2 linked regions of the Homo sapiens genome follow. The protein of the gene in region 1 interacts with the protein of each later gene in a biochemical or structural test. Each region holds a gene or a part of one and is shown on either strand. Other genes may lie near its edges. The genes, in order: MBD1 and ATF7IP.

What was found.
Region 2: the proteins of MBD1 (region 1) and ATF7IP form a complex in vitro, tested with the Homo sapiens proteins (2 studies listed by BioGRID).

The regions. Positions count from the first base shown.
Region 1 is NC_000018.10:50,271,524-50,286,614, reverse strand, and holds the start of MBD1 (methyl-CpG-binding domain protein 1), read left to right. Parts: upstream 1-5,091; 5' UTR 5,092-5,252; exon of another isoform or gene 5,253-5,398; coding exon of another isoform or gene 5,399-5,451; intron 5,452-6,597; coding exon of another isoform or gene 6,598-6,622; coding exon 6,623-6,732; exon of another isoform or gene 6,733-6,739; intron 6,740-9,410; coding exon 9,411-9,525; intron 9,526-9,616; coding exon 9,617-9,783; intron 9,784-9,870; coding exon 9,871-9,953; intron 9,954-10,196; coding exon 10,197-10,237; intron 10,238-10,633; coding exon 10,634-10,780; intron 10,781-10,886; coding exon 10,887-11,015; intron 11,016-11,170; coding exon of another isoform or gene 11,171-11,245; intron 11,246-11,369; coding exon 11,370-11,486; intron 11,487-11,569; coding exon 11,570-11,638; intron 11,639-12,261; coding exon 12,262-12,429; intron 12,430-12,751; coding exon 12,752-13,051; intron 13,052-13,143; coding exon 13,144-13,281; intron 13,282-13,659; coding exon 13,660-13,791; intron 13,792-13,876; coding exon 13,877-13,938; intron 13,939-15,074; coding exon 15,075-15,091. Other genes in the region: CXXC1 (CXXC-type zinc finger protein 1), read left to right, coding at 1-76, 358-593, 687-866, 1,264-1,290, 1,368-1,613, 1,776-1,895, 2,053-2,237, 2,514-2,721 and 5 more. UniProt on the Homo sapiens protein: Transcriptional repressor that binds CpG islands in promoters where the DNA is methylated at position 5 of cytosine within CpG dinucleotides. Binding is abolished by the presence of 7-mG that is produced by DNA damage by methylmethanesulfonate (MMS).
Region 2 is NC_000012.12:14,486,591-14,501,681, reverse strand, and holds part of ATF7IP (activating transcription factor 7-interacting protein 1), read right to left. Parts: intron 5,452-15,091; coding exon 5,339-5,451; intron 4,029-5,338; coding exon 3,609-4,028; 3' UTR 1-3,608. UniProt on the Homo sapiens protein: Recruiter that couples transcriptional factors to general transcription apparatus and thereby modulates transcription regulation and chromatin formation. Can both act as an activator or a repressor depending on the context.

The sequences.
Region 1 (15,091 bases):
TTCCATGGGGACTGCATCCGGATCACTGAGAAGATGGCCAAGGCCATCCGGGAGTGGTACTGTCGGGAGTGCAGAGGTGAGGGCCATGGATGGACAGGGAAGGCAGGTGGGGCTTCAAGGGAGGAGGAGGAGCCACAAGGGGGGGTTATGGGGATTAGTGATACACGTCTGTGGTGAGCTGGAATGGGGCTCCATTGTGAGTAATAGAAGATCCCACGGGAAGAGGCAGCTCTGCCCTGGACAGGGGTGCAGAGTAGGTGGGTGGGTCAGTAAGGGAGCGAAGAGGAAGAAAGAGGTTTTGGGACCATTCAAGCCATCCAGTGCTCACTCACTTTGGCCCTACTCTCTGCCCCACAGAGAAAGACCCCAAGCTAGAGATTCGCTATCGGCACAAGAAGTCACGGGAGCGGGATGGCAATGAGCGGGACAGCAGTGAGCCCCGGGATGAGGGTGGAGGGCGCAAGAGGCCTGTCCCTGATCCAGACCTGCAGCGCCGGGCAGGGTCAGGGACAGGGGTTGGGGCCATGCTTGCTCGGGGCTCTGCTTCGCCCCACAAATCCTCTCCGCAGCCCTTGGTGGCCACACCCAGCCAGGTGAGTGGCTGCATAAAGTGAATGGATGTGTAAAGTGGTTCCGTTTCAGCCCTGCCTGGGTCCATGATTTCTGTTCTGGGCCCCCTCCTGCAGCATCACCAGCAGCAGCAGCAGCAGATCAAACGGTCAGCCCGCATGTGTGGTGAGTGTGAGGCATGTCGGCGCACTGAGGACTGTGGTCACTGTGATTTCTGTCGGGACATGAAGAAGTTCGGGGGCCCCAACAAGATCCGGCAGAAGTGCCGGCTGCGCCAGTGCCAGCTGCGGGCCCGGGTGAGCATGGACAGAGCTGGGTAGGGTCAGGTGTGGGAGAGCTGGTGGGTCCATGCATGGTTAGTTAAGTCTAGGCATGGATAAACCAGGTGGGATTGGGCCTGACTGTATCCTGACAGGTGGGAAGGGGCCTGTCATGTCCAGATGAATGGGGCATGACCTGGTATGCTGGGCTGGCAGAACACCCCCACCAACCCTGGGTAGACAGAGTGGGGCCAGGTGTTTTCAGGTGGTCATGCATGTTGGTACAGATCAGGCAGGGCTGAGCATTCCTGGCAATGAGGGGTAGCGGGGAGGTGTGTCTGGGGAGGTAAGGCCAGGCCAGGTGGGTAGGGCTAGGGCAAGGCCGCCCTCCATCCACCTGGGGCTGACCTGGGCCTTCCTCCTGCCGGCACAGGAATCGTACAAGTACTTCCCTTCCTCGGTGAGTCCAGCCCCCCAGGGTGGGGTGGGGCATGCGGGCAGGGCGGTCAGGGCCAGTCCTGAGATTCTGCCCTGCAGCTCTCACCAGTGACGCCCTCAGAGTCCCTGCCAAGGCCCCGCCGGCCACTGCCCACCCAACAGCAGCCACAGCCATCACAGAAGTTAGGGCGCATCCGTGAAGATGAGGGGGCAGTGGCGTCATCAACAGTCAAGGAGCCTCCTGAGGCTACAGCCACACCTGAGCCACTCTCAGATGAGGACCTACCTCTGGATCCTGACCTGTATCAGGACTTCTGTGCAGGGGCCTTTGATGACCATGGCCTGGTGAGCAGACAGGAGCATCCACTGGTGGAAGGGTGGAGGTTACAGAAGCAGAGAGTATCCCTAATGAGGAGACAGAGGGTATGGAAGGCTGATATGGGACATGAGTAGGTGGTGGGGTTGTCACGAGCGGGGCAGGTGGGTCAGTGCATGCCCTGCTTGCAGCCCTGGATGAGCGACACAGAAGAGTCCCCATTCCTGGACCCCGCGCTGCGGAAGAGGGCAGTGAAAGTGAAGCATGTGAAGCGTCGGGAGAAGAAGTCTGAGAAGAAGGTGATGGAGAGGGTAAAGTGGATGTGGAAAGGCAGAGGGTGGGGTTGAGGGAGAGGCAGAGGTCAGAGGCTGAATGGGGCAAGAGCCAGAAAGGGCTAGAATGGAGCAAGGGTCTGGGGTCTGGGGCTGACTTTGACTCCACCCTGACCTGACTTGTCTTGCTCAACAGAAGGAGGAGCGATACAAGCGGCATCGGCAGAAGCAGAAGCACAAGGATAAATGGAAACACCCAGAGAGGGCTGATGCCAAGGACCCTGCGTCACTGCCCCAGTGCCTGGGGCCCGGCTGTGTGCGCCCCGCCCAGCCCAGCTCCAAGTATTGCTCAGATGACTGTGGCATGAAGCTGGCAGCCAAGTGAGTCATTCCTGAGAGGTTCAAGGGAGTCAGGAAGTGCATGGTAGGGCCTGACCACAGCCTTCTGTATGTCTACCAGTCAATCAGCTATCCACCAGTCACCAAACAGCCACTACCCACTCACCCATCCACCTACCCACCCACCTGCCCGTGTGTCCATCCAGCCACCATTCCGCCAGTCACCTATTTACTTCTCCTTTTGCCATTTGCGTCTATTTTGCCATTCTCACTTACTGATCACCTCACTCATTCTGTTGCTTGCTACCTTCCCTGCAGCCGCATCTACGAGATCCTCCCCCAGCGCATCCAGCAGTGGCAGCAGAGCCCTTGCATTGCTGAAGAGCACGGCAAGAAGCTGCTCGAACGCATTCGCCGAGAGCAGCAGAGTGCCCGCACTCGCCTTCAGGAAATGGAACGCCGATTCCATGAGCTTGAGGCCATCATTCTACGTGCCAAGCAGCAGGCTGTGCGCGAGGATGAGGAGGTGAGCAAGCAGGGGCGCAGCAGAGCAGGGCCTGTACTTTGTCCTTCCCAGCCTTATTGTTCCTTCCATTCCATGCAGAGCAACGAGGGTGACAGTGATGACACAGACCTGCAGATCTTCTGTGTTTCCTGTGGGCACCCCATCAACCCACGTGTTGCCTTGCGCCACATGGAGCGCTGCTACGCCAAGGTTGGGGTGTCAGACTGAGGGGGCGGACCATGTGGGAACATCAGTGGGCCAGTGGGGGACAGATTTGTTGTCTGGGTGGTGTCTTGGGAGGGCATGCAGCGCACATCCACAGTTCCCTCCATTTGTGCTCATCCCTCCAGTATGAGAGCCAGACGTCCTTTGGGTCCATGTACCCCACACGCATTGAAGGGTAAGTGAGGGTGCCACGCAGTGAGAGGTGGGGGGTTAAGGCGGGGGTCAGAAGTGGGATGTGTGTGGAGCTGGGGCAGGATACGGGCAACCAGCCAGGACAGATGGACCTCCCTTCCCTCCCTCTACTGCCCTCTCTACTCCAAATCCCCAGGGCCACACGACTCTTCTGTGATGTGTATAATCCTCAGAGCAAAACATACTGTAAGCGGCTCCAGGTGCTGTGCCCCGAGCACTCACGGGACCCCAAAGTAAGGTTTTCCCTCAGCTCCTCCCATTTTGCCCCTCCTCCCTGCCTCGCTGTCCCACATTCATCCCTTCCTTCCTCACCTCACTTTTCCTTCACTTTTTCCTCTCAGCTTCCCTGCTGCTTCACCCTCCATTCCTCCTTTTCCATGCCTCCTCACCGTTCCCTGAACCCTCCATTCTTTTCCTTCTCCCTCCTTGAGCCCCCATTCCTATTCTCCCTTATCACCGCTATTCATCCCCCCAACCTGGCCTCCTTGCAGGTGCCAGCTGACGAGGTATGCGGGTGCCCCCTTGTACGTGATGTCTTTGAGCTCACGGGTGACTTCTGCCGCCTGCCCAAGCGCCAGTGCAATCGCCATTACTGCTGGGAGAAGCTGCGGCGTGCGGAAGTGGACTTGGAGCGCGTGCGTGTGGTAGGTTTCTGTGCGGTTTTGGTGCTGCATGTGGTAGGTTTCCATGTCGGACGTGGCCGGGGCAGGCGGGGCTGCAGGTGTTCCTGCTTAGGACTCCTGCCGCTCCCTTGGCAGTGGTACAAGCTGGACGAGCTGTTTGAGCAGGAGCGCAATGTGCGCACAGCCATGACAAACCGCGCGGGATTGCTGGCCCTGATGCTGCACCAGACGATCCAGCACGATCCCCTCACTACCGACCTGCGCTCCAGTGCCGACCGCTGAGCCTCCTGGCCCGGACCCCTTACACCCTGCATTCCAGATGGGGGAGCCGCCCGGTGCCCGTGTGTCCGTTCCTCCACTCATCTGTTTCTCCGGTTCTCCCTGTGCCCATCCACCGGTTGACCGCCCATCTGCCTTTATCAGAGGGACTGTCCCCGTCGACATGTTCAGTGCCTGGTGGGGCTGCGGAGTCCACTCATCCTTGCCTCCTCTCCCTGGGTTTTGTTAATAAAATTTTGAAGAAACCAAGGAAGCTGTCTCCACATTGCTGCGGTTGCAACTGTTCCAGACTTCTGGATAAGATGGGGGGCGCCTGCACCCCGCGAGAGCCCAGGGACCCACATTCCCAGCCTCCCACGGGCAGAGGGTCTACGCAGCGCGCCTTCAGTGTGGTGACACCGCCCATGCATGCTCCTGTCTCCCACCCAGAGCTGTCGTCCGCTGTGGACGCCAGGCCCCGCCTTTTCCCCACAAGCCCCACGTTGGGGATCCGCCTCCTGCAGGGGCGCGCCCTCCCGCGTGCCTCAGTTTACCTGCGGTGTGGCACCGCCCCTTTCCCCGCCCCGCGCGCTCCCACAGCTGTTCGGCGGGGAGGAGGGAGCGGGACACGACCCCCCCTGGGGTTGATGTTCGGAGGGACCCACGAACACAGGATAGACCCCAGCGAGAGGTGGGAGAGGAGAGCGCCGGCAGGGCCAGGGAGTGCGCAGGCGCGAAGCAGCTTCCTTGCCGCGTTCGGTATCGGCTGTGGAGACCGCGGGAGGGAAGGGAGGGCGCAGGCGCAAGCCCTCCCCGACCGCTTCCCTTCAGGTTGAGGCTGGAAAGCGCATGCGCCAGCTAGATGGGCAGCGAGGAGAGCCGCAACTGCCAGTCCCTCGAAGGGGTTAGCTGTCGTTGAACGTCAGCACGCAGATGCAACTGGCTCTCGGCAGGGGGGCGCGCGCACCGCTGCGGAGCGCCGGCCCGTAGGCGCGGGAGCCTCCCTATTAAGGGCACGCGACATCGAGGCAATAGTGCGCAGGTGCTTAGCCAGAGGCGGAGCCCGAGAGGCAGGCAGCGGACTTCCGGTTCCGGGAGCAACGAACAGCCGCGGAGGCGACAGCTACCGCTTCAGAGGAGGCGGCCGCGGAGGAGGAGGAAGGGGAGGAGGGCGAGGCGGGAGGTGCAGGAGGGACCCTCGCCATGGGTCCACGGGCCTAGAGTGGCGGAAGATACCGGCCTGGTGCCAAACTGGTGAGACAGCCTTGGGGCTGGACGTGGAGAGCGCTCAGGCGGAGGATGGGAAGGAATTGTGGCTCAGAACGCTGACGGGGAGGAATGAAGGGCCCTCAGGCCGATAAGGGGGAGGAATGGCGGCGTCGGAATACTGACGAGGAGAAATGGGGGGATTTAGGCTGAGGACGGGAAGGAATGCAGCTCTGAACTCTGACAGGTAGGAGTGTCGGGATCCTGGGACGAGGACGGAGAGGAATGGTGGAGATCAGAACGCTAAAGGGAGACATCGGGGCATCTGAAGTTGAGAGAGAAATGGGGGTTCAGAACTCTGAGAGGGAGAAATGAGGGGCCCTCAGGCTGATGACAGGAGAAATAGAGGCTTTGGAATGCTGAAAGGGAGGAATAGGAGGCCCCATATAGAGGACGAGGAGCAGTAGGGGATCAGAATGGTGACAGTTAGGGATGGCATGATCCCGGGACAAGAACAGAGAGAATGGAGGAGGGTTCGGAATGCTGAGGGGAGAAATTAGGGTCTCTCTGGATGATAAGGGAGGAATGGAGGATGAGAACAGTAAGGAGGAGAAGTGGGGAACTTTTTGGCTGTAGAGGAAGGTTTGGGAGCTCAGACTAGGGAGAAATTGTGGGTGAGAACATTGAAGGAGAAGAAAAATAAGGGGGGAGGTCTTGGGCTGAGGAAGGGGAGGCATGGGAGGCTTCCAGTGTGAGGAATGGAAAAGATGAGGGGCTGTTCAGGCTATGGGTTGGAGCAGTTGTGTCTCGCAGAGGAAGTCGAGGTTGTAACACTGAGGTAGCAGGATAAGAGGACATCAGGCAGAGAAGGAATGGAGTGGTTAAAACACTGAAGGAGGGAAATTAGGAACTCCTGGGTCAAGGAAGGGGGGAATGAGAGACTACTGAAGTCAAGTAGTGAGGGCAAGAGAAATGGGGCCCTTTGGGGCTGAGGATGGGGACTATGGGGGTCTTGGGGTGATAAAATAGAGGGATAGAGGCCCTTAGGTCAGTGACAGGGAGGAATGAGGGGGAAGGATGAAAAGTTTCTGGATTGGCAGTGAGGAGAAATGATGGGTTGTCAGTCTGAGGATAGAGAGGAGTAGGGGATTAGGACACTGAGAATAAGAAACAGGGATCCTTGGGTTGAGGAATGATGATATCCTAGGCCCAGAATAGGAAAGAATGGGGTGAGAATATGAGGGGTTTCTTTTCCATATATGGGCTGGTTGCCTGTGGCAGGTCCTAGGGCTTGGGCAAGCACTAATGGATACCAGTGATTTGTGTGGCCTGGGGCACAGTGTTGTCCCTTCCTAGAGCCTCAGTTTCCCTCATCCCTTCCACCCCCTTTCAGGCTACTGCTGCTTCCTGTGGCCTCCATGGCTGAGGACTGGCTGGACTGCCCGGCCCTGGGCCCTGGCTGGAAGCGCCGCGAAGTCTTTCGCAAGTCAGGGGCCACCTGTGGACGCTCAGACACCTATTACCAGAGGTACTGGGTGGGTAGTGGGCAGAGTCAGGAGTGGGGTAGAGCCTGATTCTGGTAAAATCAAATGGTGTGGTTAAATTTATGGATGAAGTTTAAATTATGCACATACAGTTAATCCTTATTAGCGGATTTTATGTTTGAATTTCACCTACTTAATAAAATTTATTTGTAACTTAAAAGTCACTACTCACAGTGCATTTGTGATTATTCAAGAATACGTACAGAGCAGTGAAAAACTGTCACTCAATGCATGTATTTCTAGCTGAGGCTGAAGGAGCCCTTTTCAGCTTTAATACTGTAAACAGGTGTCCTTTTCGTGGTCTGTTTAGTGTCACATTTTTCTAATTTTTGTACTTTTTGGTGATTTTGCTTTTTAAAATGGTCCCCAAGCATAGTGCTGAGGTGCTGTTTAGTGTTCTGTGAGAAGACTATGTCGTGCTTTATGGAGAAAATACAAGGCAGATAAACTTTGCTGGTTATCTGAGTTACAATGCTGTTGGCTGTAAGTTCAATGTTATGCATCAGAATTATGGTACAACCAGAAAAAGAAGGAAATTTGCCAATATGTGCACAAAGCTGCTTCAGAAAGTACAGAAAGCATTTATAGTCTTGAAGCTATGTAAGAGATGAGAAAGCAGCTACATTGGTGGGTTCATGAAATGACGATCAATAAAGCATAGTTGACAGCATTGTTGAGGAAAGCCAAAGTCATGTTACCCTGGGTTAGGAAAATATTAAGGTTATATCAGCTAGTGCTGGCTGACTTGCACATTTCAAAAGGCGACATGGCATGAAACATGTTAAACCTGCATGCAATGCAGGTTCTGCTGATCAGGAGTCTTCCGAAGAATTTTAAAAATACCTGTTAAGTGTTGTACAGGAAAGGGGTTGTGTGGAAGAGTGGTTTTCAATGTCAATGAGATTGGCTTGTTAAACAAGAATATTGGCAAAAAACCTTACATAACACATACGGCCTCCAAGTCCCCTGGTTTGAGTCATTCAAAGACCATGCAAATAATCATTTGTAAAAAAAAATATGTATTAAGTAATGTGTGTTTAAACAGAAACACACACAAAACAAAAGTTCAGATGCTCTCAGGAACCTAACCCTGTATTTCTTCTAGGAGCAATGGTTTTGTATTCAATGTTCATGATAGCTTTGTAGAACGTAACTACCATAACTAATGAGAGTCAACATAGATGTTTATAAGCATTTACATGTGTTTAAGAAACATTATTAAGTTTCTATATTCTTTCTGATTTTTTAAATCTAAGTTGCTATCTTTCCAGGTAAATATCAAATTACAAATTACTTTTTGTTTATATTTAGTTATAATTTATTCACATATTTATGTACTTGTATAAAACTTTCAAAACTTAAAAGTGCAGTTGTCAAGAACTATAAAGAACCTGAGATTTCATTCTTAGGACAAGATAATAGTGAATTTGTCAGAATTTTGTAGATGCTGGTAGGAGGGGTAAGACTCCTGGGTTACAGATCAAAGACAGTTTATTACAACAGTTGCAGGATCCAGAATACAGTAGTCTCCCCCTTATCTGCAATTTCATTTTCCACAGCTTTAGTTACCTACAGTCAACCACCATCCAAAAATATTAAATGGAAAATTTTAGAAATAAACAATTCATTAGTTTTGAATTGTGTGCCGTTTTGAGTAGCGTGATGAAATCTCACACCATCCCGCTCAGTCCTGCTCAAGAGGTGAATCATCTCTTTGTCCATATCCGTATCCATATCCATGTTCTAGACACAACCTGCCTGTTAGTCACACAGTAACCATCTCAGTTATCAGATAGAAAAAACACAGTACATATTACATTAGGGTTTGGTACTATCCACGGTTTCAGGCATCCACTGGGGAACTTGGGATGTATCCCCTGCACGAGAGGGGGAATTACTGTATTACTATTTTTGTGCCAGTTTCTGAATCCCAATTCCTACAGCATGACGTGAAGAGGGTTGTATTATTATAGGAAAAGAACCGTGAGCTTAGAGAATCAGGTTTTTTTTAAATAATATTAAGACAGTAAGTATGCTTTCCCTTTGGAAAAAGTATACTTTCCCTTCCTCCTATGGAAGGAGACCCTATCTCTTATCTTCCAAGGTTGTTTGCTTTACAAACATCCTTGGAAAGATAGTTTATCAAAAAGGACAATCGTTGTCTCTCTTGCAGGGCATACAAAAATGCAAGAAACCCATGGGGGTCCCAAAATCAATTACTTATACTTTAATTTGTATGTAGTTGCATTTGTTTATATGTTTTTAAAACATATTTGTGTTTTCTTTACTTGATATATACTTGGTACATAATGCTAACATTTATATGTTATATTTGTGTTATATATATATAACACAAATATAATATATTTGTGTTCCTATTTGTGTTTATTTTTACTTACATGAAATAGTTCCAGTATTACTAGTATTATATGTTGTAAATATGTTCATCTGTTTACATTTATATTGTTTCTAATGTTTCTATATGTGTTGGTATTTATATTAATTTTTTTATGTTTTCAAGGTTAGTTGAGGTGGGGGCTGGGCAGGGCTCACAAGCCAATTCCAGGCTGCCTCCTATATCCTGCCAGCCCTGTCAAAAGGTTGTATGAGTGAAATGGCATTGGCTCCACCTGGGTGCTAACCCATCATGGCCCATCCCTAGCCCCACAGGAGACAGGATCCGAAGCAAAGTTGAGCTGACTCGATACCTGGGCCCTGCGTGTGATCTCACCCTCTTCGACTTCAAACAAGGCATCTTGTGCTATCCAGCCCCCAAGGTACTTCACAACATGAGATACCTAGGTAGGGGTGGATGTGCCACCCAACACCCAACCACTGACCCATATTCCTCCTTCCCTTACTTTCCAGGCCCATCCCGTGGCGGTTGCCAGCAAGAAGCGAAAGAAGCCTTCAAGGCCAGCCAAGACTCGGAAACGTCAGGTTGGACCCCAGAGTGGTGAGGTCAGGAAGGAGGCCCCGAGGGATGAGACCAAGGCTGACACTGACACAGCCCCAGCTTCATTCCCTGCTCCTGGGTGAGTGTTGGTCTAAGGTGAGCCAGATGGGTGAGGGTTGTGATTGGGGGTGCTCTTGGAGCCCCACACCTGCCTTTCCCATCCCAGGTGCTGTGAGAACTGTGGAATCAGCTTCTCAGGGGATGGCACCCAAAGGCAGCGGCTCAAAACGTTGTGCAAAGACTGTCGAGGTGAGTGGCCTCCAGAGGATGGGGCATCGGGAGATAGGAGCTGGAGCAGGTCCAGTGTCATGCTAGGCTGGGGTTTGAATGTGGATGTCAGGACAGAGGCTACTGGCATGGTTGGAGGTTGGATATTGGAGATAGCAGGCATAGGTAGAGGTTGAATAGTGGAAGTCAGGGCACAGGCAGTGAGTGAAGTCAGATGTCTGTTGCTTCCTTTCCACTTTTCTTCTTCCCTCTTCCTCCCCACAGCACAGAGAATTGCCTTCAACCGGGAACAGAGAATGTTTAAGGTAAGCACAACCTGCTTCCTCTTCACAACTCTGCAGTGGGAGCAGGATGTGATGGAGCTGGTAGAGTCTGAAGGGATGATGATGGGTCCACAGGATGAAGAGTCATTTTATAGGGTGCTCTCCATAGGTCAGCAGACACAATAATGGGAATTAATGGGGTAATTAATCCCCATTACCATTAGTGCATCAGTAGACACAGTGATGAAGTGAACAGGGGACCAGTAGACATACTAATGGCCTCAGTGATGGTGACTAACCAGACCTTCTCAGATACGGTGATGAGGCTAATGGGGGACTAAAATTCATGGTGATGCCAGCTGATGTAGGGTCAGTAGACATGGGAGGACCAGTGCTTCTGGAGCAGGCCCGTGATCTCGTCCCTACCATTCCTGGCAGCGTGTGGGCTGTGGGGAGTGTGCAGCCTGCCAGGTAACAGAAGACTGTGGGGCCTGCTCCACCTGCCTCCTGCAGCTGCCCCATGATGTGGCATCGGGGCTGTTCTGCAAGTGTGAACGGAGACGCTGCCTCCGGATTGTGGAAAGGGTGAGTTGGGCAAGTGGAAAGAGCCCAAGGCTCACCTCGGCCCCTGGCCCCCATGGGCTTGGCCCCATGCTTCATGCCTCTGCTCCCACCTGCCCCCCGCCAACAGAGCCGAGGGTGTGGAGTATGCCGGGGCTGTCAGACCCAAGAGGATTGTGGCCATTGCCCCATCTGCCTTCGCCCTCCCCGCCCTGGTCTCAGGCGCCAGTGGAAATGTGTCCAGCGACGTTGCCTACGGGTGAGTTGGGCTGGAGGGAGCAGAGCTCATTCTGCTGTTAAAATCGTCGCTGCCTCTGCTTCCTTTCAACCTGGCCTTGCCTACCTCATGTCTTTCTTTTCTGCCTAACCCTATGCTCGCCTTTCTGGCCCCGCCTACCTGCCTCTGTCTGCCAGCACCTTGCTCACCGCCTGCGTCGCCGTCATCAGAGATGTCAGCGACGCACTCCCCTGGCTGTGGCTCCCCCAACTGTGAGTGCCTCACGCCACCCTCTGTCTGCCTGTCCCATGCATGCTTTCTGCACTTAGGGTGTGGGGAGTTTCTGTGTCTGCCTGGTGCCACCAAGCTGAAACCACCCTTTCTGATCTTTCCCAGGGTAAACATGCCCGCCGCAAGGGAGGCTGTGACTCCAAGATGGCTGCCAGGCGGCGCCCCGGAGCCCAGCCACTGCCTCCACCACCCCCATCACAGTCCCCAGAGCCCACAGAGCCGGTGAGGCCCCAGTGGGTGGAGGGAAGGCACAACCCTGACCTTACCCAGTACCTGCCCTGACCCCACCCCATTTGCCTCTACAGCACCCCAGAGCCCTGGCCCCCTCGCCACCTGCCGAGTTCATCTATTACTGTGTAGACGAGGACGAGCTAGTGAGTGGCCCCACCCTACCTGGATAAGCCTAGAATCTCAGGACGCTTGGTTAACTTCAAAGAAGCAGATGCTGGAATGAGCCTATTGGGGAACAGCAAGGCACAATAATGGGTCCTAGGATGGGATGAGTAGATAATGGAGGACTAATACGGGGTCAGCAGGTGCATGAGAGTGCTTCATGTCACATATACCAACACTCTGGTAGCTGATGTGGGGATTGACAGAGGAGCAGCTAGCATAGTGACTGGGGTTCACCTAGGATGAGCGACAGAGTAGGCACAGTGATGGGAGCTAATAGAGAGTTATCAAAATGTTGCTGGAAATGGGGGTCAGAGACATTTTCTTGGTAGCTAGTGGTGGCCTAGGAAATACAGCAGTGGATACTGTAGTGGAGCAGCCACAGTCCTAATGGTATCGAGGGCCAGCTGGCACAGTGATAGTGGCCAATGTTGAACTAGCGAATGCTGAGGAGTGACTAGTGGGGAGTCAGGAGGCTGAGACTAGTATGCAAGTAGCTCCGTCTTATGGGGCTAGAGGAGCACCAGGACCAGCACTGGAATAGGCGTTGAGGATGGCCTCTCCTAGTCCTAGTTGACAGCACCACCCATTCCCCCCACCCCAGCAGCCCTACACGAACCGCCGGCAGAACCGCAAGTGCGGGGCCTGTGCAGCCTGCCTACGGCGGATGGACTGTGGCCGCTGCGACTTCTGCTGCGACAAGCCCAAATTCGGGGGCAGCAACCAGAAGCGCCAGAAGTGTCGTTGGCGCCAATGCCTGCAGTTTGCCATGGTGGGTGGGGCAGGAAGGGTCAGGTGGACGGGATAGGTTGGGCCAGGCGCCCCAGTGCCTGGAAGTGGTGGGCAGGCTTGGTAGGTGGGTGGGTGGGGCAGTAGCTTTGGTTGAGGATTAACAGACATTGTTCTTGGCTTAATGAGTCTAGGTGGCATTGGTGTTGCTAATAGGAGACTAGCAGGCTCAGTGATGAAGGGCTCATATGTAAGCAGATTCCGTGCTGGGACTGATGGGAGATTAGCAGGCATGTGGAGCCGGGCAGGGTGGATGTGATTGGTCAGGACACCAGGTAGCCATAGCACCCTATCTTTCCCCATAGAAGCGGCTGCTGCCCAGTGTCTGGTCAGAGTCTGAGGATGGGGCAGGATCGCCCCCACCTTACCGTCGTCGAAAGAGGCCCAGCTCTGCCCGACGGCACCATCTTGGCCCTACCTTGAAGCCCACCTTGGCTACACGCACAGCCCAACCAGACCATACCCAGGCTCCAACGAAGCAGGAAGCAGGTGGTGGCTTTGTGCTGCCCCCGCCTGGCACTGACCTTGTGTTTTTACGGGAAGGCGCAAGCAGTCCTGTGCAGGTGCCGGGCCCTGTTGCAGCTTCCACAGAAGCCCTGTTGCAGGTGAGGGCCCCACCCTGTCCTGCCTTCCCAGCCTCACCCAGCTGCATGCCAGGGAGCTGAGACCAAGTCTGCTGCAATCCTCCCTCACGCAGGAGGCCCAGTGCTCTGGCCTGAGTTGGGTTGTGGCCTTACCCCAGGTGAAGCAAGAGAAGGCGGATACCCAGGACGAGTGGACACCAGGCACAGCTGTCCTGACTTCTCCCGTATTGGTGCCTGGCTGCCCTAGCAAGGTGGGGGCAGTGATGGATGTTCTGTTGGTGCCGTAGCGGAGTGGTCTGTAAGCAGAGTGATGATGAGCCATGATGGTTCTCTTGAGCAGAGCAATAGATGTGCTGATTGCGACGTTTCTGCAGAATTACCCCGCCTGTCTAACAGACACCCTACCTCCCACAGGCAACTAGCTTTGCCCGCTTTGCTATCCAGCTAACAGAAAAACGGAGGTCAGTGAGGAATGGGAATGGGAAAGCTTTGTAGGCAGAGAGATGGACTTTCTGTGTTGAAATGTGATGGAAGTAGGATTTGTCAGCACAGTGAGGGGTTGGCTGATAGAGACTTTCCTCAGGTGAACTCTGCCCTTCTAATGGTTGCCTGTTTCCTACTTCTCCCAGGCAGTAGACCCAGGCCTGCCTTCTGTGAAGCAAGAGCCACCTGACCCAGAGGAGGACAAGGAGGAGAACAAGGATGATTCTGCCTCCAAATTGGCCCCAGAGGAAGAGGCAGGAGGGGCTGGCACACCCGTGGTCAGTGCTGGGGATGCCCCACCCTGCCCTGACCCTGCTGTAGCCCCAACAACCACATTGACCTATGGTGTTAATTCTTCTCTAGATCACGGAGATTTTCAGCCTGGGTGGAACCCGCTTCCGAGATACAGCAGTCTGGTTGCCAAGGTGTGCCCCACACAGTGAGGGGTGGGGAAGGAGTGGGTGTTGGCCAGATGTGGGCCCTGAGTTTTGAAAGTATAGCCGGCAGTTTGGCATGGTGTGGTGGGAGGTAAAGGCCCATACCCACTATGCTGGTCACAATTAATGAGGGGCGTGTGTGTAGGACCCTAGAGATTTCTCCTGAGATCCAGCCCAATAGCATTCCAGGTTAGGACTCTCCTTTGGGGGTAGGGGAAAGACTTGGTACTCTATCATGAGATTTGAAAGAAAAAGATAGGGAGTCTGGTCCCTATTTTCCTAAGGAATTTCTATAGGGGTCAGCTTTAATATATAAATTCTTATTCAGAGAATAATCATTTGGGTCTTGAAGGCCTTTAGAGTCTCCAGGAGACCTCTGGGTGGGCTGTTGCCTGACATTGAGCAATGTGTACCAGAGAAATGGTGCTGGGCTTGCCTGGGCAGTGGTATGGGCAGGAGATCTGGGTTCCGAGCTGGCTTTGTGAGCTGGGTTCACACGTAGTTGTGTGATCTCTGGTTGCCCTGCACTTCCTGGAGCGGCCTCTGTGGAAGGGCTTGGGCTGGATCTCTTGAGCCTTTCCTGAGCCTATTGAGGTTATTAACTTCAGATGCCTTGCAGAACTGTCCCTGTAGTCCTGGCATAGAACAAAGGGTAGATGCCTGTAAGGACTAGGGTGGTTGGGAGGACAGAGGAGTGCTGGCTCCTGCAGAATATTGACAGACCCTGCATAGAGCCCCAGACACTGGCGATGTAAACTATTGGCCTAAGCACTTGGATTCCTTTGCTCCTACAAACCAGCCCACCAGGCTAGAAACCCTTTCATCTATACTTGGCCAATTACAGAAGTATTGATTGAGTTCCTGTTGGGTGCACAGCATTGAGGACAATGAGCCCTGCAAAGCTTACCCTTCAGGAGACACAGGATACCTACCTTCAGGGAGCTTATAATCTGACTATGTACAAGCTGTCTATAATGGTAGTTTTTAGAAGATATAAAAAAAGATAAAGGATAATTAAGGGGAAGTGGATGGAGGACACAGAATAGTAGGAAATGGTTTTGTAATGCTCCATTGCGCACATAGCAAACCTCATTCAACATACAGACCTGCTCCCTTTTCCCTAGGTCCAAAGACCTTAAAA
Region 2 (15,091 bases), on another chromosome or scaffold:
CTCTCTGTGAGGCAAATGGTATCTCAACAAATACCGACTTTTCAAGGAAGAAAGCTCTCCACTTCTCTCATAAACTTATATACTACCTTAAACAGTATGCAGTATTCGGCATATTTTTTAAAAATGAGTCCAGAGAAATAGAAGGATATAGTTACCTCATAAAGTTAACTGTTAGCAACAGACGTCTTCGTATGTGATTTATAAATTTCTTGGCAAGAACAAGATTTTTAGAAGAGGCTTACTCACACTTAAGACAGAGTGAAAATTACTCTCACAGAATGCAAAGTATAGAATAATAAACATCACCATTACCTTTAAATGCCATACAAACATCCTACATTGCAGGTTGCAGTATCAGGTTTCCAGAATTTCCAATAAGGCAATACCTACACAAATATTGCCAGGCTAAAAATGTAGCAAACTTGCATTCCCAAACTGGGAGAATCTAGCTTATTTGTAATACTTTGTGAAAAGATACTATGAAACTAAAAAGGTAACCGTGGAGTGGAAACTGCTACTAGAAAGTCTGTTATCAGTAGCTACTTCTACTTAAGTCCTCCATTCTCTCCCAGAAGAAACAAACCAAACAAAAAGCATCTATCAATATTAAAACCTGCCTCAATAAAAGCCTAGTGTTCTAACTTAGCACCTCTAGTAAATCTAATATAGCTGCTGCCCCTACGTGCCATGGTAGGCTAATTTGAGGACACCATCTTATAATAAATATACTTCTCCCCTAAATAATTGCGATTTCTCCCTGTACCTTCCTTCCAACTGGAATAAAACATTTTAAGTAGTTATTTTACTTTAGTAAATATTTTTAGAATTCCTATTTGAGAATTTGTTTTCCTTTGACAGAAAACATAATATAGGCTAGGCTAATGAATTTTTTTTTTATTCTACTGGGCTTTCTTCATCTGATTATATAATGCTATGAAAGCTTTTTTTAAAAAAGATTAGTAAATATAAATAAAAATGTTCATCAAGAGAACCTTTTGTAGGTTAGGTAAGAAAATTGTTACCACGTGACCATAAAAACACCCAATAAAGAACAATTTGAACATGGGCCTTCAGTTTTGTAGACAGGAATAATCTTGAACACATATCAACATTGCAACCACTGCAGGTCAAAACATATACATGCAGATATAGACAGGTGTTCATATACATCTAGAAGATCATCAACTCCTCCTTTCTGAAATTTTCATTGCCATAACACTGGCAACTTCTTTACCATCATCATTAGTCCTAGAATGAGTAATATCTACATAATTGGTTGGCAAATTTGATTTATAGCATACTCCTTTGTGGTCTCATTTTCTGAGAGTGAAAGGTGGTTTGGAGAATTAATTTTTTGGCAATCTATAGGCTTTCTTCATCATGAATCAAATCTCACACCTCAGTATACTGACCAGTCAAAAGTCTCTAAAGAGTTTTCTTTACAACTAGAATACTTCCTATTATAAGCCATCAAAGTTGCAAACAAAACAACATTAGTAAAAGAGCTCCCTCCTGTAATTCTAGGAAAAATGAATCACTATTTTGAGAAGGTACAAATATGAATTCAAATATTGTAAAGGAAGAGGACTTCGAAGTTATTTCACAAACTCCATAAATTCCTTTCAAAATATTCTCAACCACATTCTCCTCCTAAAACTTAACTCAGCCCTCCAGTCCTAAATTATCTACACCCAAAACACCTACCTGACACCAGTACAGCTGGCCCTCATATTAAAAATCCATGACCTAAGCTGAATTTTAATAACTTTGAAGAGGAACAGAGAGATACACAGGAGGTTATATCTAATTGTTACATAAAATGACCTCAAAGGATATACTTTAAATTCTTTTTTTTTTGAGGCAGAGTTTCGCTCTTGTCTCCCAGGATGGAGTGCAATGGCGCAATCTCAGCTCACTGCAACCTCCGCCTCCCGGGTTCAAGCGATTCTCCAGCCTTGCCTCCTGAGTAGCTGGGATTACAGGCATGCACCAACATGCCCAGCTAATTCTGGGATATACTTTAAATTCTATCCAAAGCTAACAATGGGTACATCAGACTCAACTTGGCACCATCAAAACAAAGTTAAAAGGTTAAAATGGGAAGGACGATAAAGAGAATAAAGAGGAAATGAAGCTTTCCCCTTGATATTTTAGCTCATTCTATATTGTAATCTTACTATTTGCTTCCTTTGAAAGAATACTAAGGAGTTAGTGTTGGGTGATAGCTTTGGGTGATAAACTGAACTAGAATGGTTTTCATAATCTCTAACACAGTGTGCAACACGGATACTAAAATGTGTGAAAAACTGTCTTCCACAATATGGTTTTCTCTTGGTCCACTTTACACAAAGTTAAATAGTGACCAAAAATAAAAGCATCTATAGTTTTAGAAGAAAATAGCACGTCAAATTTTTGGAGTTAAATGTGATTGTCGCCACCATGCCCGGCTAAGATGAGACTATGCATGCACCTGTGTGTGTGTGTACATACACATCCATGTACATACACACACCTTGGTTTAAAAATCACTTGAGTAGGCTGGATACAGTGGCTCACAACTGTAATCGCAGCACTCTGGGAGGCCGAGGCGGGTGGATCACCTGAGGTCAGGAGTTCAAGACCAGCCTGGCCAACATGGTGAAACCCCATCTCTACTAAAAATACAAAAATTAGCCGGGCATGGTGACAGGTGCCTGTAATCCCAGCTACTCTGGGGCTGAGACAGAAGAATTGCTTGAACCCAGGAGGCAGAGGTTGCAGTGAGCCAAGATTGTGCCACCGCACTCTAGCCTGGGCAACAAGAGCAAAACTCCATCTTAAAAAAAAAAAATTACTTGAGGAGTTGTGCTATATTTGGTAGAGATGAAGGAGAAATCAAGGGTAAAAGGCTGCAAGGGAAGACTAAGCAACAACGGACATATGGCCATATTTATTTATTTATTTTTGGCCATGTTTATCTTTGTAGTTAATCTTTAAGGCACAAAATAAATGTAAAAGCCAGATTAGGAAAGGGAGGGGGCCATTGCAGATCTTTTTTCACCTAATTAACAACTCAGGAGACCAGACAAAAGAAACAACAAATAGATCCTTTCCTGTGTTCGAATTAACCTATTTTAAACTATTTAGCCATTTTGTTTTTTATTTATTTCTTTGGGTTTTGTTTTGATTCTGTTTGACCCACTTAACTAAAATGATACTATAGATCCTTCAAAAGCAGAATCATGCCAGTTACACATCTCAAATCCTTTGATCTACTTACTTCGTACTTTAAGAGGTAAATTTGAGAATGAAAATGGGAGACTCCAATGCAATAACACCTACATAAGGAAAAACACACATAAACACCCACACATATTCCCCAGCCTCAAAACTAAAGCAAGGTACACATTTACATTTCCAAACCCCAAAGCCTAAACTGTCCAGGAAAAGATTCTAGCTTTGTGGGCTGAGTTTATTTTGCTTCTGGTTATAAACAAATGTAGTGTATACACACATCTGTCCAAGAAATCTTGCACAAGGTGGATTTTACATGGGGTATCATGCACAAGATTAAAAACAAGACCAAAAGGTGGAAATTTTAAAAGAGGAAAATATAAAGGCTCCAAGGTTTAACTGCTCTGGGTAGAAGAGATCACATCTGTTGACTGAGGATCACAGAAAGGCCCAAAACGTCCATAAATATCCTTGGCTCGTACTGCAAAGTAGTATTTGCTACCAGATACAAACTGGGTGAGAGTACATGCCATGGGCAAGGGAAGTGCCTTGACTTCCCCAATCTTTTTCCATTGTGAGGGCACAGTGGCACTGGGTTCCTCATGGTAAGCATAGAGATGGTAGCTATCAACAGTGGCACAGCTTCGATCCACCTCCAGGACACTCCATGACAGTACTATGCCATTTTGACTCTGAACGCGTGCTAACTTCAAGTGTGGCTTCTGAGGCAGAGATGTGCTGGCAGCTTCTGGGGGCAGACGCTGTGGTTGTGGAGCTTCTGGTAAGGGTGCTGGGTGCACGGGGCGTGGGGGCTCCTGAAGAAACAGGTCACACTGATTAATGATGATTGCAAAAAGAACTATTTTAGAATGTTAGAATTAAAACACCTTAGAGAACATACGTAGAAGTATCATTTTATATCAAGAATTCTAGGAAATACCAAATACCATATCAAATTTGGCAAGTTCTATTTGGGGTTTTGTAATGAATCATGCTACAAACAATGATGCTGAGGTTATTCCTACTATACTTCCTAGACCTAAAATATTTTGAGTTTTTCTTAGGAAATAAAAAGCCCCTGCTGACGGAACATCATTTTGAGGAACACGGAAGTAATGATCTATTTCTAACAAAATAATTTATGATTGAATTATCTATGTTACAGATTATCATTTCAGTATGATGTAACATTTTTAAATATCATGTATGGCAACCAAGATCATATAAAATTGGAGAATACAAATATACTTTCATTTTTAAGTTATTTATAAATAAGCACATTAACACTAAATGTGTACTATATTCTTGGCCAATTTACAAGAAAAAGGTGATATTTAAACTCAACTGTGAAGGAGGATCCAGAGATGCAGAAATAATCATGTACCTTTCAGCCAAAAATAAAGCATGAGCAAAGGCATGTGGACAGTAAAGTGAGGGGACGTATGGACAAGAACAAGTATTAACTTTTTCTTGGACATAGGGTACATGAAGAAAAATCTGGAAAGGTAGGTTAAGGCCAGATGATGAAAAAACATGACTCTAACTTTAGGAAGTCCTATTGACTTTTCTAACACTGGAACATCATCATCATTATAATGATATTTCATACCAGTCAAACACTGACAAAATTGTGTCACAGGATAATGTGACATTGTTTTGGAGGCTAAATCTAAGGAGAAATCTTTGGTTATCTCTGTTACCTCTTAACTAATGAATTCCCAATATCATTGGATTCTTTAGAACAATTAATTGATGACAATGTAGCAGTTAGATGTGGCATAGTTTAGAACGAAAGAATAAAATTAACACATGGAGAAATGAAAAATGTCCTTTTTAATTTAACTATGAATTAGAAATGGTCTATATTTCACTTCATATACCCCAACTGTGGACCTGTTTTTGTACACTGTACACCACAAGCAAACTCAATGATTCTAAATGATCATCATCCCTAGGAACTATGTGTTCATAATGGTAAGATCAATTTTTAGAAATAAACTTCTGAAAAAGCAGGAAGACCTAACACTTCCCTTGGATATAACCATTTTAAAGAAAAATGCCAAATACAATAATATTTTATACCTCTACAGTTGAGAATTTTGCAAAACCAAGCATCAACACTTACAGTATGCACTTGTGGTGGTCGGTGATGCACTGTGAGCTGAGGTCCTGTTGATCCCAGGGTTAGTCCATTGTTTACAACATATGTGGTTGTTTGAGGCACTCGAACTGTAACACCTACAAACAAACAAAAAAATTACAGGATAAAATGATAATTCTATTGTAAATTTGGTGGAAAACTGATTAAATATTTGAAGGCAGTGAAGCAATGTTTTCAAGATTCGAAAGGAAAGATATTTCTAACCTAGAGGTCCTGTTCGTATTCAGCCAAGCTATCAATCAGCCTGTGGATAAAAAAACTTTCTTACATGCAAGCACTAAAAAAAAATTCTAACTACCACAAACCCTTTCTCAAATAGTCAATGGAGAATATGTGCCACCAGTACGTGAGAAAATAAAGAGAAAAACACGAGACACAAGCAACAGGAGGTCCAGCACAGGGAGAAATAAATGGATCGTTACCAGGAGAACTATGAACAAAAATCCTAGAACACTGGTTGTGTACCACATGTAAAAGGTAAATGGCCATAATGGAGCAGTGTGACTCAAAAGACAGACAAACTGGGAGTATCTTCATAAAAATCTCTGCAGTCTCATCTTTTCAACCAGGACAGAAAGCCAGAATAAGTCATCCTTGCCATGTATTAATGAGGTTCCTCTCATTTTCTCCATGCCCAGCTCCTTGGTTGAGGATACTCACTTCACCCCACAGAAAACTGCTGTGACATACACCAGGGAAACAAAAAGAGAAAATTTAGAGCCACCTACTGCCCTAACTATATTCCTGCCATTTATTCAGTACCTGGCCCATGCTGTAGTTCGGCCTGGTTCCTGGACTATAGTGAGCCAAGTTTCCCAGAACTCATTTCTAACCTTGTTGATTAATTTTCCCAGACAACGCTCTTGTAAACTTGAGAGAGTTGAAGCCAAGCTATGATCCAGGGACTCCAATCAGTTTATTTTCTAAATGATAGCATTACTGTGTTTCTTTAAATAGCTATATTTTCCCTTGCTGTCACATTTTGCAAAACTACAACATATGTGTGATGGTTAATACTGAGTGTCAACTTGATTAGATTGAAGGACACAAAGTATTAACCCTGGGTGGGCCTGTGAGGATGTTGCCAAAAGAGATTAACATTTGAGTCAGTGGACTGGGGAAGGCAGATCCACCCTTCATCTGGTGGGCACAATCTAATCAGCTGCCAGAAAATATAAAGCAGGCAGAAAAACGTGAAAAGGAGAGACAGGCTTAGCCTTAGCCTCCCAGCCTACATCTTTTTCCTGTGCTGGATGCTTCCTGCCCTGGAACATTGGCCTCCAAGTTCTTCAGTTTTGGGACTCAGACTGGCTTCCTTGCTCCTCAGCTTGCAGACAGCCTACTGTGGGATCTTTTTTTTTTTTTTTTTTTTTTTGAGACAGAGTCTGGCTCTGTTGCCCAGGCTGGAGTGCAGTGGCATGATCTCGGCTCACTGCAACCTCCGCCTCCTGGGCTCAAGAGATTCTCCTGCCTCAGCCTCCCAAGTAGGTGAGATTACAGGCTTGTGCCACCACACCCAGCCAATTTTTGTATTTTTGGTAGGGATGAGGTTTCACGATGTTGGCCAGGCTCATCTCGAACTCCTGACCTCAAGTGATCTGCCTGCCTTGGCCTCCCATACTGCTGGGATTACAGGCGTGAGCTACCATGCCCAGTCTATTGTGGGAACTTCTGATTATGTAAATTAATACTTAATAAACTCCCCTTTATATATATAAACATTCACTATATATAAAGTATTTTACATATATTTAATATTTATATATAATTAAGATATACTGTATATATATAGTAGGATATAAAGTATATATACAATTAGTTTATATGTAGTATATATTTTATGTATATACCCTATTAGTTTAATACATATATAATATATAAAATATATATATCCTATTAGTTTATATATAGTATATATTATATGAATACTATATATAGGAAACATATGTGTATATATACATATACACACACACATATATATATATATATATATATATATATATATATATATATATATATATATTCTATTAGCTCTGTCCCCCTAGAGAACCCTAATTCAGATTTTGGTACCAGGAATGGGGTCCAGAGGAACAGAATATTAAGGATGGAGTTCTTTCATTGGTTTTGGGGTTTCTGGAGTTGGCTGCTTAATGTGATTAGACCCAAAAATGTTAAAAACTCTAATTCTAATAGTATAGAGAACACTGATAGTCCCTGGTGTGAACTGTTTAGAGGGTTATGCAAAATAAATGCATTTGACACTCCTGATTCACTGCTTGTGGGAAGCAAGGAGTTTAGTGACTCTATACATAATACCTTGGACCATATGTGGAGAACCAAGGAACATAATGAAGCTGGTCAGTTGCTCCTAAGTGCAGTGGAAAAAGTGATGAAAGAAAATGATGAACTCAAGGATTCTGTCTCTCAGCCTCAGAAGAAGATACTGAGGCTCAAAACTGCTAAGATTGCCCTGAATGAGAGTCTTATCTCCTGTAGAGAGAGCGCTGAAGTTGTGGAAAAACAGACACAAGCTCTTATCATGCGAGTGTCTGACCTGCAATGAAAGATACATGCACAGCCTTGCCAGGTGTCTACTGTTAAAGGGAGGGCACTGACTGGAAAAGAATGGGACCCTGAAACTTGGAATGGGGGTGTGTAGAAGCACCCTGATGAAGCTGGGGACACTGAGTTTGTAAATTCTGATGAAGCTTTTTTGCCAGAAAGAACAGCTTCCCCATCCCCAGTAGTGGCAACATCCACTCCCTGACCCATGCTGCCATCAGCCTTTCCAACTTTGTCTGAAGAAATAAAGCCTGTGATATGTGAGGCAAGAGTGATGGCTTCCCCTGAGGCAGTTGCCATGCAAGACAATGTTGATTCTTCTCAGGAGCCACTCCAAACACCTCTCTTTGCTTCTAGATGTATAACTACACTAAAGTACTGGTGGGCCCCTAGAGGTGAGGTTGAAGGTGTGACCTATAAGGAGGTATGCTACACTCAGAGAACTGTTTTGAGTTCTTTAATTCAAATATACAGAAATCTGAAGAACAGGCATGGGGATGGATATTAAGGGTATGAGATTATGGTGGAAGGAACAAAGTTGGATCAGGCTGAATTTCTTGATTTGGGCCCACTAAGTAGGGACTCTGCATTTAATGTTGCAGCTCAGGGAGTTAAAAAAGGTTCTAGTAGGTTATTTGCTTGGTTAGTTGAAATAAGGATTAAAAGATGGCACACTGTGAGAGAGCTGGAAATGATTTATCTCCCTTGGTTAATGTAGAGGAAGGGATCCAAAGACTAAGGAGATTGGGATGGTAGAGTGAATCAGTCACTTTAGAGCTAGTCATCCCAGCTGCGAGGGTCCAGAAGATATACCCTTGACCAATGCCTTGCGAAACAGATTTGTGAGGGCAGCACCTGAATCTCTGAAGAGCCCTCTAATTGCTCGACTCTATATGTCAGATCTAACAGCGGGAACTGCAGTCACTCAACTACAAAATTTAAATACAATGGAAATAACTGGATCCTAAGTTGGCAGGGGCCAAGTGGTGGCACTCAACTGTCAAAGGCAATGTGGGCATAGCTACCATAATGGACAGCAGAGGCAAAGTGGCAATCAGAAGAGTCTGACTTGTATAGATCTCTGGCATTGGCTAATTAATCACAATATTCCTAAAGATGAAACTGATAGGAAGCCTACTGCATTCCTACTTATACAACCAGAAAGCTTCTAGGTCAAATGGACAAAAGACTAAATTGAATAATAAAAACAGAATGATGACCCCTCAATCAATTTCCAGACTTGAGCCAGTTTACAGACCAAGAACCCCTTGAATGAAGGGGAGGCCTCGTCCCCTTGAGGAAAGACCCCACTACATTCCTGACAATTTATGCAGTGAATCTTTCTCCCATCCTTCCCCAAGGAGATCTCTGGCCTTTTACCAGGGTAACTGTGCATTGCGGAAAAGGAAACGATCAGACATTTCAGGGACTACTGGACACTGGTTCTGAGCTTACACTGATCCCAGGAGACCCAAAGCATCATTGTGGTCCTCCAGTTAAAGTACAGGCTTATGGAGGTCAGATAATTAATGGAATTTTGTCTCAGGTCTGACTTACAGTGGATCCAGTGGATTCCTGGATTCATCCTGTGGTCATTTCCCCAGTGCCAAAATGCATAATTGGCATCGACATACTTAGCAGCTGGCAGAACCACCACATTGGCTCCTTGACTGGTAAGGTGAGGGCTACTATGGTGGGAAAGGTCAAATGGAAGCCATTAGAGCTGCCTCTAAAAAGTAGTAAATCAAAAACTATATCCCATACCTGGAGGTACTGAGATTAGTGCCACCATCAAGGACGTGAAAGATGCAGGGGCGGTGCTTGCCACCACATCCCCATTCAATTCTCCCATGTGGCCTATGCAGAAGACAGATGGATCATGGAGAATGGCAGTGGATTACTGTAAGCTTAATCAAGTGGTGACTCTAACTGCAGCTGCTGTACCAGATGTGGTTTCACTCCTTGAGAAAATTAACACATCTCCTAGTACCTGGTGTGCAGCCATTGACTTGACAAATCCTTTTTCTCCATTTCTGTCCATAAGGCCCACCAGAAGCAATTTGCCTTCAGTGGGCAAAGACAGCAACATACCTTTACTGTCTTACCTCAGGGGTGTATCAACTCTCCAGCTTTGTGTCATAATCTTATTCAGAGAGACCTTGATCACTTTTTGCTCCTGCAAGATACCACACTGCTCCATTACGTTGATGACATTATTCTGATTGATCAAGTGAGCAAGAAGTAGCAAAAACACTGGACTTATTGGTGAGAGATTTGTGTGCCAGAGGATGGGAAATAAATCTGACCAAATTCAGGGATCTTCTACCTCAGTAAAATTTCTAGGGGTCCAGTGATGTGGGGCCTGTCAACACATTCCTGTTAAGGTGAAAGACTAGTTGCTGCCTTTGGCCCTTTCTATAACCAAGAAATAAGCACAACGTCTAGTGGACCTATTTGGATGTTGGAGGCAACACATTCCTCATGTGGGTGTGTTACTCCAGCCCATTTATCAAGTGACCTGAAAGGCTGCCAGTTTTGAGTGTGGTCCAGAACAGGAGAAGGCTCTGCAGCAGGTCCGTGCTACTGGGCAAGCTGTTCTGCCACTTGGACCATAGGACCCAGCAGATTCAATGGTGCTTGAGGTGTGAGGGGCAGAGAGGGATGCTGTCAGAGCCTTTGGCAGGACCCCATAGGTGAATCACGGTGGAGGCCTCCAGGACTTTGGAGCAAAGCCCTGTCATCTTTTGCAGGTAACTACTCTCCTTTTGAGAGACAGCTCTTGGCCTGTTAAAGGGGCTTTGGTGGAAACTGAACATTTGACTATGGGTCATCAAGTCACCTGAGATGACCATCATGAACTGGGTGCTTTCTGACCCACTTAGCCATAAAGTGGGTCATGCACAGCAGCATTCCATAATCAAATGGAAGTGGTATATATGTGATTGGGTTCGAGCAGGTGCGGACGGCAGAAGTAATTTACATGAGGAGTGGCTCAAATGCCCGTGTCTCCCCTCTGACACCCTGCCTTGTCTTCCCCAGCCTGCACCAATGGCCTCATGGGGAGTCCCTGTGATCACTTGACAGTGGAAGATTAAGACTAGGTCCTGGTTCACAGATGGTTCTGCACCATATGCAGGCACCACCGGCAAGTACACAGCTGCAGCACTACAGTCCCTTTCTAGGACATCCCTGAAGAACAGCAGTGAAGGAACATCTTCTCAGTGGGCAGAACTTGGAGCAGTGCATCAGGCTGTGTGCTTTGCTTAGAAAGAGAAATGGCTAGATGTGTGATTATATAGATTCATGAGCTGTAGCCAATGGTTTGGTTGGATGGTCAGGGACTTGGAAGAAGCATCATTACAAAATTGGTGACAAAGAAATTTGGGGAAGAGCTCTGGGCATGGACCTCTTTAAGTGGTCAAAAACTGTGAAGGCATTTGTATCCCCTGTGAATGCTCACCAATGGGTAACCTCAGCAGAGGAGGATATTAATAATCAAGTCCATAGGATGACCCGTTCTGTGGACACCATTCGGCCTCTATCCGCAGCCACCCGTGTCATCGCCCAATGGGCTCATGAACATAGTAGCCATGGTGGCAGTAATGGAGGTGATGCCTGGGCTCAGCAACATGGACTTCCACTTACCAAGGCTGACGTGACTATGGCTAATGCCGAGTACCCAATTTGCCAGCAGAAGAGACCAACACTGAGCCCTCGCTCGGGCATGCCATTCCTCGGGGTGATCAGCTAGCTACCTGGTGGCAGGTTAATTATATTGGACCTCTTCCATCATGGAAAGGGAAGAGGTTTCTCCTCCCTGGAATAGACATATACTCAAGATATGGGTTTGCCTATGCTGCACACAATGCTTCTGCCAAGACTACTATCCATGGACTCACAGAATGCCATGGTATTCCACACAACATTGACTCTAACCAAGGCACTCACTGTACGGCTGAGTAAGTGCAGCAGTGGGCTCATGCTCATGGAATTCACTGGTCTTACCATGTTCCCCATTGTCCTGAAGCAGCTGGATTTACAGAACGGTGGAATGGCCTTTTGAAGTCACAATTACAATGCCAACTAGGTGACAATACTTTGCAAGTCTGGGGCAAAATTCTCCAGAAGGCCATGTATGCTCTGAATCAGCGTCCAATATATGGTGCTGTTTCTCCCATAGCCAGGATTCATGGGTCCACGAATCAGAGGGTGGAAGTGGAAGTGGTACCACTCACCTTCACCCCTAGGGATCCACTTGCAAAATTTTTGCTTCCTGTTCCTGCGACATTACGTTCTGCTGGCCTAGAGGTCTTAGTTCCAGAGGGAGGAACGCTCACACCAGGAGACAAAATGATTCCATTAAACTGGAACTTAAGATTGCCACCTGGATACTTTGGGATCCTCCTACCTTTAAGTCAACAGGCTAACAAGGGAGTTAGTGTTGGCTGTGGTGACTGTCCCGGACTGCCAAGAAGAAATCAGTCTACTGTTCCACAATGGAGGTAAGGAAGAGTATACATGGAATACAGGAGATCCATTAAGGCGTCTGTTAGTATTACCATGCCCTGTGATTGAGGTCAACAGGAAACTATAACAGCCCAATCTAGGCAGCACTAAAAATGGCCCAGACCCCTCAGGAATGAAGGATGGGGTCACTCCACCAGGAGTAAAACCACTACCAGATGAGGTGCTTGCTGAAGGCAAAGAGAATACAGAATGGGTAGTAGAAAAAGGTAGTCATCAATACCAGCTACTACCATGTGACCAGTTGCAGAAATGGGGACTGTAATTGTCATGAGTATTTCCTCCTTCTTTTGCTAAAAACATGTTTGTGCATGTATGCACTTGTACAAACAAAATGTCTTTATTTCCTTTTCCTTCATCATGTGACATAAGATTTATTGACTTCCTATCAACATTTAAGTATTGTTAACTTTATGTAATAGTATTTGGCTTGGGGATTGGTGCGCTTCTGGTTGTACAAAGGATAATTGTATTATGTTAGGCATAAGTATGGCCTTATTACCCTCTTTATTTGAAGGCTGCGTATGATATTAGGAGATGTATATGGGTTCAGGTTGACAAGCGGTAGACTTGTGATGGTTAATACTAAATGTCACTTGATTGGATTGAAGGACACAAAGTATTAATCCTGCGTGTGTCTGTGAGGGTGTTGCCAAAAGAGATTAACATTTGAGTCAGTGGGCTGGGGAAGGCAGATCCACCCTTCATCTGCTGGGCACAATCTAATCAGCTGCCAACAAATATAAAGCAGGCAGAAAAACGTGAAAAGGAGAGACAGGCTTAGCCTTAGCCTCCCAGCCTACATCTTTTTCCTGTGCTGGATGCTTCCTACCCTGAAACATCGGCCTCCAAGTTCCTCTGTTTTTGGGTGTCAGACTAGCTTTCCTTGCTCCTAAGCTTGCAGATAGACTATTGTGGGATCTTGTGATCGTGTTAATATTTCATAAACTACTCTTTATACTATAGATATATATAAAAATATACTATATCTACAAATTTATAGGATACGTGTGTGTGTGCATGTGTGTGTGTCCATCTTATTAGTTCTGTCCCTTTAGAGAACCCTAATTCAGATTTTGGTACCAGGATTGGGGGTCTAGAAGAACCGAATATTAAGGATGGAGTTCTTTCATTGATTTTGGGGTTTCTGGAGTTGGCTGCTTAATATGATTAGACCCACAAATGCTAAGGACTCTACTTCTAGTAGTATAAAGAACACTGATAGTACCTGGCATGAACTGTTTAGAGAGTTATGCAAAATAAATGCATTTGACACTCCTGAATCACCACTTGTGAGAAGCAAGGAGTTTAGGGACTCTATACACGATACCTTGGACCATATGTGGAGAACCAAGGAACATAATGAAACTGGTCGGTTCCTCCTAAGTTCAGTGGACAAAGTGATAAAAGAAAATGATGAACTCAGGGATTCTGTCTCCTGGCTTCTGAAGCAAATACTGAGCCTGAAATCTGCTAAGACTGCCTTGAGTGAGAGACAGTTATCTCCTATAGAGAAAGAGCTGAAATTGTAGAAAAACAGACACAAGCTCTTATCATACAATTGGCTAACCTACAACAAAAGAGGCATGTACCAGACTCACCAGGTGTCTACAGTTAAAGTGAGGGTATTGATTGGAACAGCTTCCCTACACCCAGTGAGGGCAACGTACCCTCCCTGATCCATGCTGCCATCAGTCTTTCCAACTTTGTCTGAGGAAATAAAGCCTGTGATATGTGAGGCAACAGTGATGGCCTCCTCTGAGGCAGTTGCCAGGTAAGACAATGTTGACTCTTCTCAGGAGCCCCTCCAAACACCTCTCTTTGCTTCTAGATGTATAACTACACTAAAGTACTGGTGGGCCCCTAGAGGTGAGGTTGAAGGTGTGACCTATAAGGAGGTATGCTACACTCAGAGAACTGTTTTGAGTTCTCTAATTTACATAAACAGAAACCTAGAGAACAGGCATGGGGATGGATATTAAGGGTATAAGATTATGATGGAAGGAACAAAGTTGGATCAGGCTGAATTTCTTGATTTGGGCCCACTAAGTAGGGACTCTGCATTTAATGTTGCAGCTCAGGGAGTTAAAAAAAAAGGTTCTAATAGATTATTTGCTTGGTTAGTTGAAATAAGGATTAAAAGATGGCACACTGTGAGTGAGCTGGAAATGATTTATCTCCCTTGGTTAATGTAGAGGAAGGGATCCAAAGACTAAGGAGATTGGGATGGTAGAGTGAATCAGTCACTTTAGAGCTAGTCATCCCAGCTGGGAGGGTCCAGAAGATATACCCTTGACCAATGCCTTGCGAAACAGATTTGTGAGGGCAGCACTTGTATCTTTGAAGAGCCCTCTAATTGCTCGTCTCTGTATGTCAGATCTAACGGTGGGAACCTTAGTCACTGAACTACAAAATTTAAATACAATGGAAATAACTGGATCCTAAGTTGGCAGGGGCCAAGTGGTGGCACTCAACTGTCAAAGGCAAGGTGGGCGTAGCTACCGTAATGGACAGCAGAGGCAAAGTGGCAGTTAGAAGAGTCCGACTTGTATAGAGCTCTAGCATTGGATAATTAATCACAGTGTTCCTAGAGATGAAACTGATAGGAAGCCTACTGCATTCCTACTTAAT